Linked DNA regions of Homo sapiens: region 1 is linked to region 2. The links come from fine-mapping of genetic effects on gene expression. Tissue or cell type: whole blood. Region 2 holds a variant in brackets; the other region holds the start of a gene. All regions are shown on one strand. Distances are between the middles of the regions.

The links. PIP is the estimated chance that this variant, and not a neighbour inherited with it, causes the effect.
Region 1: DRC1 starts here. The variant in region 2 is fine-mapped to the expression of DRC1 in whole blood (TOPMed, PIP above 0.99). The same link has a PIP of 0.9 or more in neutrophils.

What each region holds. Positions count from the first base shown.
Region 1 is chr2:26,396,846-26,404,950 of GRCh38, forward strand. DRC1 (dynein regulatory complex subunit 1) reads left to right here and starts at 5,075. Exons shown (of 17, transcript NM_145038.5): 1 at 5,075-5,299. The coding sequence starts at 5,145.
Region 2 is chr2:26,451,141-26,459,245 of GRCh38, forward strand. DRC1 (dynein regulatory complex subunit 1) reads left to right here. Exons shown (of 17, transcript NM_145038.5): 14 at 2,180-2,409; 15 at 3,507-3,650; 16 at 3,991-4,093; 17 at 5,321-5,571. The coding sequence ends at 5,377. OTOF (otoferlin) reads right to left here. Exons shown (of 47, transcript NM_194248.3): 47 at 6,063-7,080. Among named protein-coding and RNA genes, the nearest start is that of DRC1, 53 kb to the left of the region's middle. RefSeq lists enhancers at 6,492-7,062, 7,063-7,632. The variant G/A (reference allele first, on the strand shown) is at 4,782.

The sequences.
Region 1 (8,105 bases), 54 kb before region 2:
TGGTTGCGGTAGCAGTTATTCCCTCCCTTCTATCTGCAAACCTCAAACACCTCCCGAGTGCCTGATGACACATACCAGGTAGATACTACGTAACCACTCTTGGGGCTACCAAAACTTAAAAAAAAACCCTATGCCCCCAAAGGGTCTTGCTTCTCTTCCCACTCTCATCTTTTTTCCTCTGTTCACAAATTTCCTGAAAGAAAACTTTACAACTGCTCCTTCAATTTTCTTCTTCTTTTCATTCTGAGAGTTTTCTTAAAACCTCCCAAAGTTTTCATACAATGGCTGTTTCTTAGTCATGTTCAACTCTGCAAACTTTGAAGAAAGAGCTTTTTACTTTTTTCTAAGCCTTAGTTTCCTCATCTATAAAATGGGATCAATATTACCACTATTACACCATGTGAAGGATTGAATGAGGATAATGCATGCAGGGTGTTTAGCACAGTCAGTGGACTAAGGTAGGTGCTTGGTTTCTACTAATATCTAGTTCTCTGTCTTTTTTCTTTGAACTTTTTTTCTAAACCATGTGACACAGCTCATGACTTCCATGCCTCCTCCCCTCTCTTTCCTCCTTCATGCCTTTTGAGGCAGTATATGAAGATGATGGTAAGGCAGTTCCCCAAATTAAAAATTGGTAAGATTGCCTTCTCAGAATCTAATTAGTAAAATTCACACAAATCGAAAGATAGAAATAACCTAAGAAGTTGTCTAAATGATGAATTTGTCAGCATCCTCACATTCCAATTAAGGTGAGTTAGTGTAAACTTATTGGATGTAGAATTAAGTGTGACTAGACTTAGTAAGATATAAAATCAAATCTGTTCATCCTTCTTGTTTTGAAAAAAGGCTATAAAAGCTGAAGGTGGATGCCCACATACCTTCCTTAGCAAGGGAAGCCCATATAGCCAGATTCCTCAAAAACCTACTCAGGGATGAGGAACTCGACTGTGCTTGTGGCAGATTATCCCCATTGTGAGCCTCTGAACCATGGCAGTCAGTCCTACATATCAAGGGACTTCCCAGTCAGAGTTTGATCCTCTTTGTGACCAGCACATCTCTGTGGGCTGATCTACACGAAAGGCACGAAAATGCACACTGCCCTGTGTGATGGTTGTACTTGCTTGCTAAAAGAAATTCTATGTTTTTCTTTTGTGAGCTTGTTAGTATGAGCCAGCCAGGCTTTTGTATGAGCTTTTTTTTTTTTTTTTTTTTTTTTTTTTTTTTTTTGTGAGATGGAGTCTTGCTGTGTCACCCAGGCTAGAGCGCAATCTCTGCTCACTGCAACCTCTGCCTCCCGGGTTCAAGCGATTCTCCTGCCTCAGCCTCCTGAGTAGCTGGAGTTACAGGCATGCACCACCACACCCAGCTAATTTTTGTGTTTTTAGTAGAGATGGGGTTTCACCATGTTGGTCAGGCTGGTCTCGAACTTGACCTCGTGATCCACCCACCTTGGCCTCCCAAAGTGCTGGGATTATAGACATGAGCCACCGTGCCCGGCCTGTATGAGCTTATTAGTATGAACCAGCATTGCCTACCAGTTGAGGACCACACTCTAGATGCTGGTCAGTCATCAAGGTGAATGGACATCACCTGCCTCCCTTCCCCAAGTCCCTCTCATCTATAACAGCCCTACTTGCCTGCCTCACTCTCTTGGGGGTCTCCTGTTATTTCTCTTACAAAAACATGAATAAATAAGCTTTATGTTTTATTGAGTCAAAAGGGATTTATCCTCATTGTAAACATTTTTTTTTAATCTTCAGGGAATCTGAAAATCACCCATAAGCCCACCCCTGAGGGATATTGACTACTTTGTGGTATTCCCCCTGTTTTTCTTGTGTACTACTGTCTACATTTCAAATCAAACTCGGCTTAGGCTCTATATTGTGCTGCCTGCCTCTTCCCTTTCTCATGTAATGTATCTTGGATGTCTTTCTAGGTCACCTTTATTCTTGTGTTAGAGAATCCCATGATTCTTTTATCGGTTCCCCTATTGATGGATTTTGTCATATCTAGTTTTTTAATATTACAAGTAACTGGAATGGACATACAGATACATCTATATACGTTTCTTTCAAAAAAAGTTTGTTGAGCACTTACTACATATCAAATATTGTGCTAGGTGCTATGTATAAAATACCGAATAAAACTGATATAGTTGTGACCCCAATGAGCTATAGCTAGATCCATGATCTCCTTGTGATGATCTTTAAACTAGAATTGCCTAGTGAATGGATATGCTAATTTATTTTTGTGTGTATACAAATAAATATGTTTTTATCTAGTTTTTTCAGTTTTTAACAATTTTCTAAATTTAACTCACTTATGAACTATTTACAAAGGCATGGAAAATTAAGCATGCATTTTCCCATTTATATTTAATCATAATTCATTACATGTCTTCTGACTTTCTTGTTTAGTGGTTTTTCTTTGTCTCTTTGTTTCATTCCTTTGACCTCTACAACCACAGTTGTCTGCCCCATGAAAATATTTCTTCCTCTCTCTGTCCTTTGTTCAGTTTAAAAAATTTTTAGTATTTAAAAAAATTCGGCAGGCCGGGCGGAGTGGCTCATGCCTGTAATCCTGGCACTTTGGGAGGCCGAGGCGGGTGGATCGCCTGAGGTCAGGAGTCTGAGATCACCCTGGCCAACATGGTAAAACCCTGTCTCTACTAAAAATACAATAAACATTAGCTGGGCATGGTGGCACACGCCTGTAGTCCCAGCTACTTGGGAAGTTGAGGAAGGAGGATCGCTCGAACCCAGGAGGTAGAGGTTGCAGTGAGCCAAGACTATGCCACTGCACTCCAGCCTGGGCAATTGAGCAAGACGCTGTCTCAAAAAAAAAAAAAAAAAAAAAAAGGAAATAATAGTTATATATGTTTATGGGGTACATAGTAATATTTCAATCCATATAATGTATAGTGATCAGGTCTGGTAATTAGCATGCCTATCAGCTCAAACATTTGTCATTTCTTTGTGTTGGGAATGCTCAATATCCTCGTTGCTATTTGAAACTATGTTATTGACTATAGTCACCCTCCAGTGGTGCAGAACACTAGAACCTGTCATTTTGTATCCTTTAACAAATCTCTCCCTATTCCACCCTTTACCCTAGTATGCCAATTTAAACAGTTAATAGATTTTGGCAAACTGTCCTCCTAGGAGGTCCCTTTCCAGCGGTGAGTGAAAGTGTTTCCCACACCAGTGAAAAAGGTTTATTACATAATTGAGGCTGCCTGTGGGAGCAAAGAGGGCCTCCCAGCTGGTCAGAAAATGGCTAGAGAGAGCCAGGAAAGGAGACAAGCTTGGGGCTTTTATTGTGGTTAAGGGGTGAGGCTGGGAGGAGGGTATCCTGTGCACGCAGATGAAATCTGCCAGCACCAAAAAGAGCACCTAGGCTTTTTTTAACAGCTTGCCCAGATGTGGAGAAGAAAGAGGGAGTGCTGCGTAAAAGCTGCCAGCAGCCAAATGTCAGCAGCAAAAAATGGAGTCAGATTTCTTATATAAAAAGATGTTGGAAGTGGTATCAGAACAGTGCAGGGCCAAGTATCTCACTGGTCACTCTTCATGGGTTTGTATGGTACCTTTGCTCTCACTTACCTCTTGTGCAACAGCTGATTCCCCCTGACTTTCTCATGGTATCCCACTCCCAGGCATAGACATGCGCATGCACACATGCTTGTTTCTGTCCTTACGGATAGTGGAAACATGAACCAGGACCTGGACGAGTTTTTGGTCAGAGCTGTATCATGGCTCCTAGGAGAGTTTAATACTTTAGGTTTCAACCAAAGGAGACAGAGATCTGGCAGAAGGCCCTGAAGCCTAGAAGCAAGTACCCCCGCTCCTACCACCACCACCTAGGCAGGTGTGAGACAAGGATCCAGGCAGCTGCTGTTAGACTCTATAGCTGTTGGATGGTTTTGGCATTCCTAAACCTCTCTACTGCTTGCAAACGTGGAAGAACTGATTTTAAAAACCCACTCCATTTGCCTCTGGGCAGTTCTTACTCACAAAGGACGGGTCGTCTTGGCCGCACAGTTGTCTGTGGGTTGCATCATTTAACAGCTGAGAAAATGCTCCTCAAGAAGTTGTGACTTGCCCAAGGTGGCAGGGCAGGGCTAGGACTAGTACTCACCCTTTCTCACTGCTCATCCAGTGCCCTTAATTCCCCACGGGCTAATGGGACAGAACCCTGTTAAATGGTATCCAGTTTTTGTTTGGTTGGTTGGTTGGGTTTTTTTGAGACAGAGTCTTGCTCTATTGCTCAGGATGGAGTGCAGTGGCTCGATCTCGGCTCACTGCAACATCCACCTCCCAGATTCAAGCGATTCTCCTGCCTCAGCTTCCCGAGTAGCTGGGATTATGGGTGCCCACCACCATACCCAGCTAATTTTTGTATTTTTAGTAGAGACGGGGTTTCATCATGTTCACCAGGCTGGTCTCAAACTCCTGACCTCAAGTGATCTGTCCACCTCGGCCTCCCAAAGTGTTGGGAGGCTGAGGCATGAGCCAGCGCGCCAGGTTTTAATTCTCAATGAGAACACTATTTTTGTTGACAATGAGACGCCCAGAAGATAGCGCCTTTCTGGGGACAGTTGAGAATTTAATAGTGCTTCCGCATTTCTAACTTTTATCCCTCCCCCCTCCCACGGACTGTTTTCCTCTATTCCACTTTTCCTCTTTCATAAGTATTTGATTGCAGGTTGGTATCCTGTATCCAAGCACAGCGCTTGGCATCGAGTAGGCGCTCAATTTTATTTGGTGAATATGAGTTGGAGGAATATTTGATGAATGAATGGAAGATGAATTAATCATCAGGGTCAGCAAGTGATGAACCACAACTTGGTCCAGTTCTTTAGTCCTCTAGTCTCCTGGTGAGACTCCACAGCTCCGCTAACACGACCGGGCCTTCGTGGGCCTGACAACAGACCTGACATCCCACGGGCGGGAGAGGCGTCAGCCCGAGGCTGGGATGCTCGGCCGGAACGGCGGCTGGCGGCAGGCTGGGCCCAGGGAGCTGCGCGCGCAACCACTCGGGCTGTGGCTCCGGTGACCGCTCTCCCTGGCAACGGTTTGTTCCTAGCAACCAGCCTGAGGTCTGGAGGTGGTGCGGAGGGAGCCGCCTAGGGACCAGGGACTCCTGCCATGAATCCGCCGGGGTCCCTAGAGGCCCTGGACCCGAACGTGGACGAGCACTTGTCCACCCAGATTCTCGCGCCCTCGGTCCACTCCGACAACTCTCAGGAGCGCATCCAGGCCCGGCGCCTCCGCATCGCTGCGCGCTTAGAAGCCCGGAGGCGGTGAGCGCGGGGGCGGGCGGGGCGGGATCCGCGCCGCAGGAGCCGGAGAAGGGCTGGTTTCCTGATGAAATAGAAACATTTCTTCGGGAAGGTTCAGGCAGAGTATGGGAAAGTAAAACGCTGGGCCGGTGCCGTGGCGCGCGCCTGTCATCCCAGCACTTAGGGAGGCCGAGGCGGGCCGATCACTGGAGCCCAGGAGTTGGAGATGGTCAACCTGGGCAGCATAGAGAGACCCCATCTCTATAAAACATCAAACAATTAATCGGGCGTGGTGGCGTTCGACTGTGGTCTGCACATGGCATCTTTTCCACTACGGACACCTCCAAACCACAGGGTCTGCTGGATCATGTGGCCCAAGTAGCCTGGCTGCTTACACTGTGGCCTGGGTCCTTTCTTGTTCCAGGCACCACTCAAAGCTGGCAGCTTTTTGTGTCAGCCTGAATAATATTCCTAAGTGCGGGATGTATTGTCTCTAGGACCCAAAGTGGCCTAAGAGGCATTGAGTTTCCTTCTCTGTAGAGGATGCAAAATGCAGTAGATTTGTTTTTTACTTGATAGGCTATCCCAGCATCCCACTGACCACTGGACCCCTACAAACTTGAATGACATGGCAGTCCCTGGGCCTTCATAGGGTTGATTGCCCACCGTCTGGAGCACACATGTCTTACCAAGCCCTGCAGTGTGTTTCCATCACTCGCTCACCCTGGCTGATTGCTGCGGGGCCATCAGTGGAATGCAGGGGCCGGCAAACCCTTTCAGTAAAGGGCCAAATAGTAAATATTTTAGGCTTTTCGGATCATATGGCCTCTTTCCTAGCTGCTCAATTGCCATTGTATTGCAAAAGCAGCCACAGGCAAGACATAAACAAATGGGCATGACTGTGTTCCAATAAAGCTTTATTTATGGACACTGAAATTTGAATTTCATATACTGTTCATGTATCACAAAATAGCCTTCTTTTGATAAAAAATAATAATAAACTTTATTTTTTAGAGCAGTTTTTAGGACCACAGCAAAACTGATCAAAAAGTATAGCATTCGCATATACTCCCTGCCCCCACACATGCACAGCTACTGTCAACATCCTGCACTGGAGGGCACATTTGTAACAATATATGAACCTTGGCGCATCGTTATCACTTGAACTCCATTGTTTACCTTAGGGTTTCTTTTTGGTGTTGTACATCCTATGGGTTTGGATAAATTTATGGTGACACGAGCCCACCAGTATAGTATTATACCAAATATTTTTACTGCCCTAAAAATCCCCTGTGCTCTGCTTATTCATCCTAGTCTTTTTTTAACCATTTATTTATTAACCATTTAGAATTGTAAAAATCATTTAAAATTGTAAAAACCATTTAAAATTGTAAAAAATCGTAGCTCATGCCTGTAATCCCAGCACTTTGGGAGGCCAAGGCAGGAGGATCACCTGAGGTCAGGAGTTCAAGACCAGCCTGGCCAACATGGCGAAACCCTGTCTGTACTAAAAATACAAAAATTAGCCAGGTGTGGTGGCAGGCACCTGTAATCTCAGCTACTTGGGAGGCTGAGGCAGGAGAATTGCTCGAACCTGGGAGGCAGAGGTTGCAGTGAGCTGAGATAGCGCCACTGCACTCCAGCCTGGGTGACAAGCACAAAACTCCATCTCAAAAAAAAAAAAAAAAAAAATTGGGCCGGGCGCAGTGGCTCATGCCTGTAATCCCAAAACTTTGGGAGGCTGAGGCGGGCGGGATCACGAGGTCAGGAGTTTGAGACCAGCCTGACCGACATGGTGAAACCCTGTCTCTATTAAAAATACAAAAATTAGCCAGGCATGGTGGCGCGCGCCTGTAATCCCAGCTACTCAGGAGACTGAGGCAGGAGAATCGCTTGAACCCAGGAGGCGGAGGTTGCAGTGAGCTGAGATCGTGCCATTGCACTCCAGCCTGGGCGACAGAGCGAGACTCTGTCTCAAAAAAAAAAAATTGTAAAAATCATTATTTGCCTGGAAGCCATACAAAAACAGGTGGTGGACTGGATCTGTCCCACAGGCCATAGTTTGCCAGTGCTGAAGTAATGGATCATTGTGATGTTCTCTGGGATATCCAGATGTCCCTGATATATTCAGAATATATTATGACAGAGATCAGGAGAACTACCATGGTCCTGTGAGTGTGACCGACTTGTGAGTGTATATCATTGTCTGTTCCATGTAAATGTGAACTTCCTGATTATTTTTCCTGATTGAGGTAGAAAAGCATGCATTTGGCCCAATCAGTAGCCACACATACTGTGCCTGAGGCTGTACAAATTTGCTCTAGTGAAGCTTACCACACTTGCATAGATGCTGTGTTCAGGAGTGCTACCTGTGGAGCTTCTGGTAGTTGACAGTCACTTTCTAGGATCCAGTTTCTGCAGGTGCCAGACCCATGAATTAAAAGGAGATTCAATAGGGATCACCATTCCTGCATCGTTGAGATACTTCAGGGTGGCACTAATCCCCACCAACACCCCTGGGTGGCAATATTTTTTTTTGTGTACTGAGGTGCAGTTTCAGAGATGTCCTTTTGGCCTTCCCCACTATGGTAGCTCTATTTATAGGCCAAGGAGTGGAGTTTTTCAAACTTCTAAGTATGTAGGTCCCAATTATACTTTTGGCCATTAGAGACATGATTGCTGGCTGAGTCCACAGACTTGGCAGACCCTCTGTAAGTAGGACTTTGCCTCCCCTGTGTCCTCACTCTAAGTGGGTGGGAGCATGCTTTGGGTCTCTGGGTGTCAATGGTAACTCAGACCCTGTTCTAATCCTAAACATTTCTGGGTA
Region 2 (8,105 bases):
AGCATTTCCCTTATTGTTTATCAATTTGTCTCTTTGTAAAGGGAAGAATGGCTTGGGGGTGAGATGCTGTTCTTATACTGAGGCCCAAGCAATCTTTTCCTGCACCCTCCCTCAAAACCAGGTCTCAGCCACTGTGAGACCAGAGCCCACCAGGTTCTGAATATTTTGATCCTTAACACTTTCCCGCAAGGCAAGGCCCATTTGTCCTACATATCTTGATTGTAATTGATTTCAGAAGGTGAATCAAATATTAACTATTTTAAAGAAGATGCCATATTAAAAGTCATATAACATTTTAATTTAAAAATGAAAAATGTGAATGAAAAATGTTTTTAGTACTGCTAGCCCAAAGCTGAGTATCCTGACATGCCTGTAAAAAGAGTTGGCTGGGCTAGGCACAGTGGCTCATGCCTATAGTTCCAGCTACTTGGGAGGCTCAGTTTAGCCCAGAAGGTTGAGGCTGCAGTGAGCCATGATGAGGTTGAGGCTGCAGTGAGCCATGATTTCACCACTGCATTTCAGCCTGGGTGACAGAGTGTGAGACACTGTCTCTAAGGGAAAAAAAAGAGAAAAGAAAAAAAGAGCTGGCAGAAATGGACAAAACCACAAAGCCATAAAGGGAATAAAAGCTATATTTGACTACAGAATTTAAAAACAATTCTGTAGTGCAAAAATCATGATAAGCAAAGTTAAGAGATGAATGACAAGCTGCAGAGAAATATTTTCAACTCATATCATAGTTAAGGCATTTCCTTAATATATAAAGAGCTCTCTGAAATCAATAAGAAAAAGACCAACAAAAGGAACAGATAACAAATATGAATGAACAACTCCTAGAAGAGGCAATACAGGTAACTCTTAAACATATGAAAAGACAATCAGCCTTCCTTGTAATAAGAGAAATGCAAATTAAAATGGCTGATTTCCATTTTGCCAACCTGTTATGTTGGCGCAAAAAAAAAAAAAGCTTGATAACACAGCAAGTATAACATAGCGATGACTGAGGTGTAGAAAACAGGCACACTCATAAGTTACTGGTAGGAGTATAAATTGTAACCTCCATTGAGGACAGTTTGGCAGTATCAATTACAAAACTATATACATTTTACTCTGAAATTCTTCTTCTTTTTTTTGAGACAGAGTCTCACTCTGTTGCCCAGGCTGGAGTGCAGTGGCACGATCTCGGCTCACTACAACCTCCATCTCCCAGGTTCAAGCCATTCTCCTGCCTCAGCCTCCTGAGTAGCTGGGATTGATTACAGGCACCTGCCACCACGCCCGGCTAATTTTTGTATTTTTAGTAGAGATGTGGTTTCACCATGTTGGCCAGGCTGCTCTCGAACTCCTGACCTCAAATGATCTGCCCACCTTGGCCTCTGAAATTCTTCTTCTAGGATTTTATTCTCTAAATATATCTCATTACAGTTGAAATGGTGTATTTATTGTAGCTGATTCACTGTACATTGTTTGAAATGGCAGAAGATTCGAAACAACCTATATGTCCATTGTTGAGGAATCTATTTAATAATATATGGTATGTCTACACGATGGGGTACTATAAAACTGTGGGAAAAAACCAAAGTTCTTTATGTATTCACATGAAAAGGTACCTAAGGTTTATTGGTAAGTGTAAAAGCAAACTACAGAACTCTATTTGTAGTATAGTATCATTGATGTCAAAACGAGAAGGAGGAGTATATATGGAAAGGTATGCGCATGTATTTATATATAAACATTATATAGACATACTATTTCCTTGGAAGGAACCATAGGAAACTTGATAGCATTCGTTTGCCTGTGGGAGGTCAATTGCATGAACTGCAAAATAGGAGTAGGAGGAAGACCTTTTAAATTTAACAATTAAAGCAAAAATTTAATCTGTATTATGATTCAAAAGAAGATTTCTAACATGTAAGCTTTATGAATGTCAGTAAGGTGAGCACCTAGGAGCCCGGATTTAGAAACAGAACCTTTCCATTTTCTCGTAGCCTCCTAGTGCCTCTCCCCATCCCATCCCCCTTCTTCCCACTCTTTCTCCTGTTTCTGTCCCTGTGTAAATGTCTCCCTGGGCAAGCTGTCACTTTCTGTAAACTTTTCTGGTTTTTCTTCTTCCTGCCTCTCTCTCCATGCTCATGCTCGTGTGTCCCCAGCCCACAGTTGTCCGTGCATCTTTCTCCAGATCAAGCCCTGCAGTCAGGCGAGCATGGAGAAGGCGAGCATGGAGGAGACAAGCACGAGGTCAGAATTGGAGCTGGCAGAGCAGACGGAGATGGAGGGAGAAAAGGAAGAAAGCCTGGTGGAAGGGGAGAAGGAGGAAGAGGAGGAGACCCCACCCTCCCCCTGGGTCATCCACCCCAATGATGTCCTCAAGATTCTGGAGGCCTTCGTCATGGGTCTGAAGAAGCCTAGGTGGGCTGCGGGGCTGGAAGGCTTGCCTGAGACCAGAACCAGGGGAGCTGGATGGGCTGGGGAGCCAGGCAGAGCCAGTGAGTGGAGAAGAGTCTGCTGGGCAAGATGCGGGGACTAAGGACAGGGCTATCTGAAGGCGGGCTGGGGCAACCAATCGCTGGACAGTCAGGAAAGCAATAGGGCATAGTGGTGATCTGTGCTTTTTTCACTCATCATTCATTCAGCAGACATGCACTGAAGGCTGCCATGTGTAAGCACTGTGGGGGCACTGCCTTGTGATCAGAGTAATGGTCAAAGCACATTCAAGGTGCACCATTGTTCAGAGGAGGAAGTGGCCGTTTCCATTTGGCATGTCAGAGGGTTTTGGGAGGAAATGGCACTGGAACTAGGTGTTCCCAGGCAGATAAAATGGAGGTAAGGGCATTTCAGGAAATGACAGCATGGGGAAGGTCTGGTCTGTTCAAGAATCATCACAGGAGGTCTGGCTGGAGTGTCAAGGGCCTGGGAGGTGGCACTGGTGGGTGGGGAGCTAGCCAGGTCTTGGAGAGCCTTGCCCAATGTGCCCAAGATCTTTGTCTTTACCCGTTGGTGGGTGGGAGCCAGAAAAGGATTTGAAGCAGCCGAAGAGCCATGATTAGCCTTGCGTTTTAGAGAGATCATTGTGGCGTCAGGGAAGGGGCGAAGCTGGATACAGGGAAAGCATCAGGAGGCTTGTCCAGGTGGGAGGTGAGGATCCCCCAGATTAAGGCTGTCATGAGGGGATGGAGAGGACATGACTGAATTCAAGTGCTGTTTTGGATGTGTTGGTGCAAGAGATGGGCACAGTGATGAGCTGTAAAGCCAGTGAGGTAAACTGATTGGGAGAGAGAGGGGTGGATGAAGCACGGATTATGCCCTCACGAAGGTACCGGTGGTACCGAGGCAGGAACGTTGACAATAAGCATGCGTCCTTTCTGAGAACCTGCCACCGTCTAATAAACTTGGACTGCTGAGTGGGAAGGTGACAGGTGGGAAAGCAGTAGGCCTGTGACTGGCACTGCCTGGGGGCCTGGGTAGTACCCAATGGACATGACAATCACTGTGCTCTTGGCCTTCAGGGACTCGCGGGCCCCGCTGAGGGTACAGAAGAATGTGCGTGACAACTCCAAGGACTCGGAGTACTGGCAGGCCCTGACCACAGTGATCCCTTCCTCCAAGCAGAACCTCTGGGATGCCCTCTACACAGCCTTGGAGAAGTACCAGTAAGTGTGCATGTCATGGAGCAGGAGGGTGCTGGCGGGCAGGTGAGGAACGGTTGTTGGGAGCAGCCGCGTTTGCTGCCTCCCTGTCCCACTGAACCTGGGAGGGAAGAGCTGCCCTTGGCATCTCCTGTGTGGGTGGATCATGTGGGGCAGTTGGCTCTTGGGCCCTGGCCTGCCTGTTCTGTTCCTGCTAACCTGGCTCACCTGGCGGCTGGGTGAAGAGTGTAGCTTCTGGAGTCTCCCTCCACCTGTAGCCAAAGTACAACCACCAAGACCCTGGCCCCTACTTGGCAGAGGATGGAGGATTCAGTGAGCCTCTAACCGATTTTTCTGTCCAAAGCCTTGTCCTGACCCAGAGGGCCAAGCTGCTGCTGGAAAACAGTTCTCTGGAGCAGCAGAACACAGAGCTGCAGGCGCTACTGCAGCAGTATCTGAACTCCAAGGTGGGCGGCGGGGCCTTCCAAGGAGGGGCAGCGGGAGACACGGGTGGGGCAGGGGCACTGGAGCTGGGATTAGGGAACGAGGAGTCCCCTCCCCGTCAGAGGCAAGGGAGCTTTGTGATATGATGTAAAAAATCAAGAGTGGCACCTTGAGACAACTACTGGCCAAAGGAGTAGATCTTGCCTGAAGTCTCCTCCAGGACAGCTCAGGTGTGACAGTGTCTCTTTGATACTGTGGTTTCTGGTGCCAGTGGCCAGCTGGGACTGCTCTGTGTGAAGCAGTGCCACAGCCAGGAGCAGCTCCCCAGCTACAGAGCCTCCAGCTGTGCTCTCTTCTTCCATCCTCACACCCGCTGTGTGAGGTGGACAGGGCGGAAACAATGCTCCTCATTTCACACAAAGGACAATCACAACTTGCAGAGTTTGCAACTCGTCCAGAGCCTGGGCTCTTTCCACCCACCAGCCCCGGTTCCCTGCCTGGGATATGACTGGAGGGTCATCCTCGCATGGGGAAGGAGGCTCTGCTGGGGCAGATATTCCCTGGCCCCCATCTGTGCCCAACCCTGCAATAGTTGTGGACAACTTCCCCATGGCCTGGCAAGAGGAGGAAGGAAAAAGTCCATTGCTGACATTTCCTGCTCTGCGGGTGTGGGCACCTGCAGCTGGGGCTGTAGGCCAGGAAGGTCGTGAC[G/A]CAGCTGTTAGTTGCACACGTGTGAGGTGACTGAGGCCAGCTCCAAGTCCAGCCACAGGGGCTGCGTGGCCCCAGCACAGTCCCAGGTCCCAGGCCACAGCTGAAAGTGGGATGTTGTAGTGAACCTTGGCCTCATAATGACCCTTGGCCTGTGACAGGACCCAGACATTCTGGACGGTATGGTTCCCGCTTCCACAGATGCTACTGTATACAAGAGGCTGGGGGAGGAAGAGGTGGGGCAGGCTAGATTGGGGATGGCATGGGTGCGTGGAGAGAGGAGAGGGGAAGACTGCAGAGAATGGACGGGCGGGAGATGAAGAACGCTACCAGAGGTCACAGCTGGAGCAGAAGCTGAGCAAGAAGGCTCAGGCGTGTCTCCTGCAGGGAGGCAGTCTGTGGGTGTTCAGCATCTCTCAGCTTTGGAGAGGAGATGCGTGCAGGGCTTTGGAGGCCCATGGGAGAGCCAGCGTGGCTCGCAAGGGTGGCAAAGAAGGAGGGCCCTGGGAAAAATGTAACGACTTTCACCCTTTCTTTTCCAGATCAACTCTGAACTGCAAGTTCCTCCCACTCAGGTGTTGCGGGTACCCACAAAATGAGCTGGACCGCCAAAGGCTGATGTGTTAGGGCTGGCCTGATGCTGGTGTCTGTGCCGGAGCCAGCTCATATCACCCACTGGGCCGCACCTGGGCCTGCTCTCTGGATTTTCCAGGGCTGTCTTTATAGCCTGTCGAAATAAGGAGCCAGAGGAGTTACCTGTGTCCTGCATTATGATTAAAGCCTTTTAAAGTTGTGGCTGAATCTCTTTAAAGAGGTCAGGTCTAGCAAGACCAGGCCCTTGCCCCTACCTCTGTGTCATGAGGGGACTTTGCCCCAGGCTCAGATAGTGGTGTGAGTCAGAGGCCGAGGCCAGTAGCGTGGGGCTCCTTTCTTGCTTTCAGGGGAACTGGTTTCTGTGGGTGGAGGCTAGAGCTTTTGGGCCCTTGTGGGGCCTTAAGCCTTCAGACTGGCCCCAGACCTGAAGGATTCTTTCGGTGCTTTGGGGGCCCCTGGGCCCAGGCTGGTGTGCCCTTTGGGCTATGGTGTAAGACTCCTCCTGTGGGCAGCCTGGGTGGGCAGCCCTGTGCCTGAGGCCTGCCTTGAACCCTGGGCCACCAGAGGCCACTTGAAGGGGAAAGGCCATGGGAGCCCTGCTGGTACTGAATCTGCCAGCCTAGAGAACTGCTGCCTCTGCCCCGCACCTGCGGCTGCTCCTCTCAGCTTGACCAGTGCAGACCTGTCAGCTCAGTGCTTGACTTCTTTTATTTAGAGAAAAATCACCACTCAAGAAAAGAAAAACAGCCAACAGAAACCCAGACACAGGCAGGGGCAGCACTTGACGGGCCAGCTCCCAGCTGCAGCTGAAAGGGCTGGAAGGGCAAGGGGGCAGGGGTGGGAGGACAGGGTGTGCCCGGGATGGGGAGTCCCCTCTGCTGCTTCTCACAGCTCCTCAGCTGGGCCTGGAGGCGCTGGCTGGGGCAGAGGGAGCTCTGGGAAGCCATGGAAACCCACAGGCAGGACAGGCGACCCCCTGGGAAGTGAGAGGAGCCAAGTGGAGCCCAGCAGTGGCAGAAGCAGCCGCGCTGGGACTTGTGGGCAGGGTCTGGCCCCTGCTGCGGATCAAAGACCGGTGCTATCTGCAGGGGTCACGGCGGGGATACCTTTTGCTCGTTCATTCTTTTTAAAGCCCTGGGCACTGACCCATGGTCCTTGGTTAATTTCACTAAAGCTTCAATCCTGTACTTGGAAGACCTGGGGAGGGTTTCAGGAGTCTTCCTCTGGAGCCTGGGCCTGAAGAAGGGTGGCGCCTCAGCCAGGTGGGGCAAGAGAGACCCATTCCAGGTCCCCACCCCATCCAAGGCTCCCCAGCCCACAGGCAGGGGTCAGAGGGGCGGGACTGGGCAAGCCGCAGCCTGGGGCAGTGAGGACAGGCGGCCCCCGCAAGCAGGAGGCAGGCTCGGCCCAAGGCATGAAGAGTGGACGCTGGGCTCCTCAGGCTCCCCAGGGGAGATGGGAAAGAGTCCAAGCCACTGAAAGGAAATGCGGCAGGGCTGGGGAGCGGCTGGCGGGAGCTGGCGGCCTTCATGCCCCAAGGAGCTTTTTGACCATGTAGCCAGGGAGGCTGTAGAGGAAGAGCCCCAACATGAGCAGCCCCAACAGCGCCAGCACGATCTTGATGATGAGCCACTTGTACCGGGTGCAGATGAGGTACTTGATGGACTTGAGAGGGTTGAGGAACCAGACGAAGGCCGTGTCGGGCCGGCTGGGAAGTGGAAGAGAGGAGCCGGTCAGCCAGTGGGCAGGAGCTGCCTCCCAGTGCACCCCATCCTCTGTCCTTCTGGACCCCCAAAAGCCCTGCCATGGCCCCAGCCCCAAAAGCAGTGAATGCTGGAGCCAGGGTTTAAACCCATTTCTAAGTACCCGACTTGCTGCTTACAAAACTCTATCCTCCCTGCAGCACCTTTGGGGCCCGAATCTCCTCCTAAGGCCTAGATGGGAGCTACTTGCAGCATGGGGCAGCCTTGGCCCTGCAGGCAGTTCTCATCGTTAGGAAGCTCCTGCGGTTAGCTCGTTCTATGTGCTGCCCCACGTCCTTGGTAAGACTGGTGCTTCACAACCTCTTCCTTTCTGATGGACATAAATGGCTGTTCCCACCGGGCCCTGCTGAGGGTCTGAGCAGCCCCTGTGGGGTGCAAGCTGCCCTCACCGACCTGCCCACTCTCAGGATGAAGACCCACTCCACCTTCTGTAGAGCCTCCCAGCCGAGAAGCACCTGGCCAGCCTCACTATCTGTCGTTTGTGTTATAAAAACAATAGGTTTTGTAAAATGTCAAGATACAAGTGAAAGTACTGCATATGCATTTTCAAACTACTGCCTCCCAGAGGACATGGCGTGCAGCCCCAGAGCTGAGCTCAGTATTGGTGGGGACACAGAGCCGGGGCTTGGGTGCAGGGCACCTGGTTTTGAATGGTTTTCACAGGCAAGTGAGGCACCTCTATCAACCTCGGTTTCTTCATGTATAAAATGGGGTTACAAGCAGTACCTACCTCCTGGGTTTGGCGCAATGGCACAGTGAGCCAGTGCCTGGGGAGCTCTGAGCACCTGCAGTTGGGTGTTCAGGCCATGGTGGCTATGAAATGTTTGAGTTGAATGGAATTATTATCCTGAAGGGCAGAAAACAACAGCCCTGGACTGGGAGGTCACACACGGGTGAGAGCCATTTCCAGACCTGTTGGCTAACCCTGGCCACACCCTTCCCTTTTCCCTGTCCATAGCTCAGCTTCTTT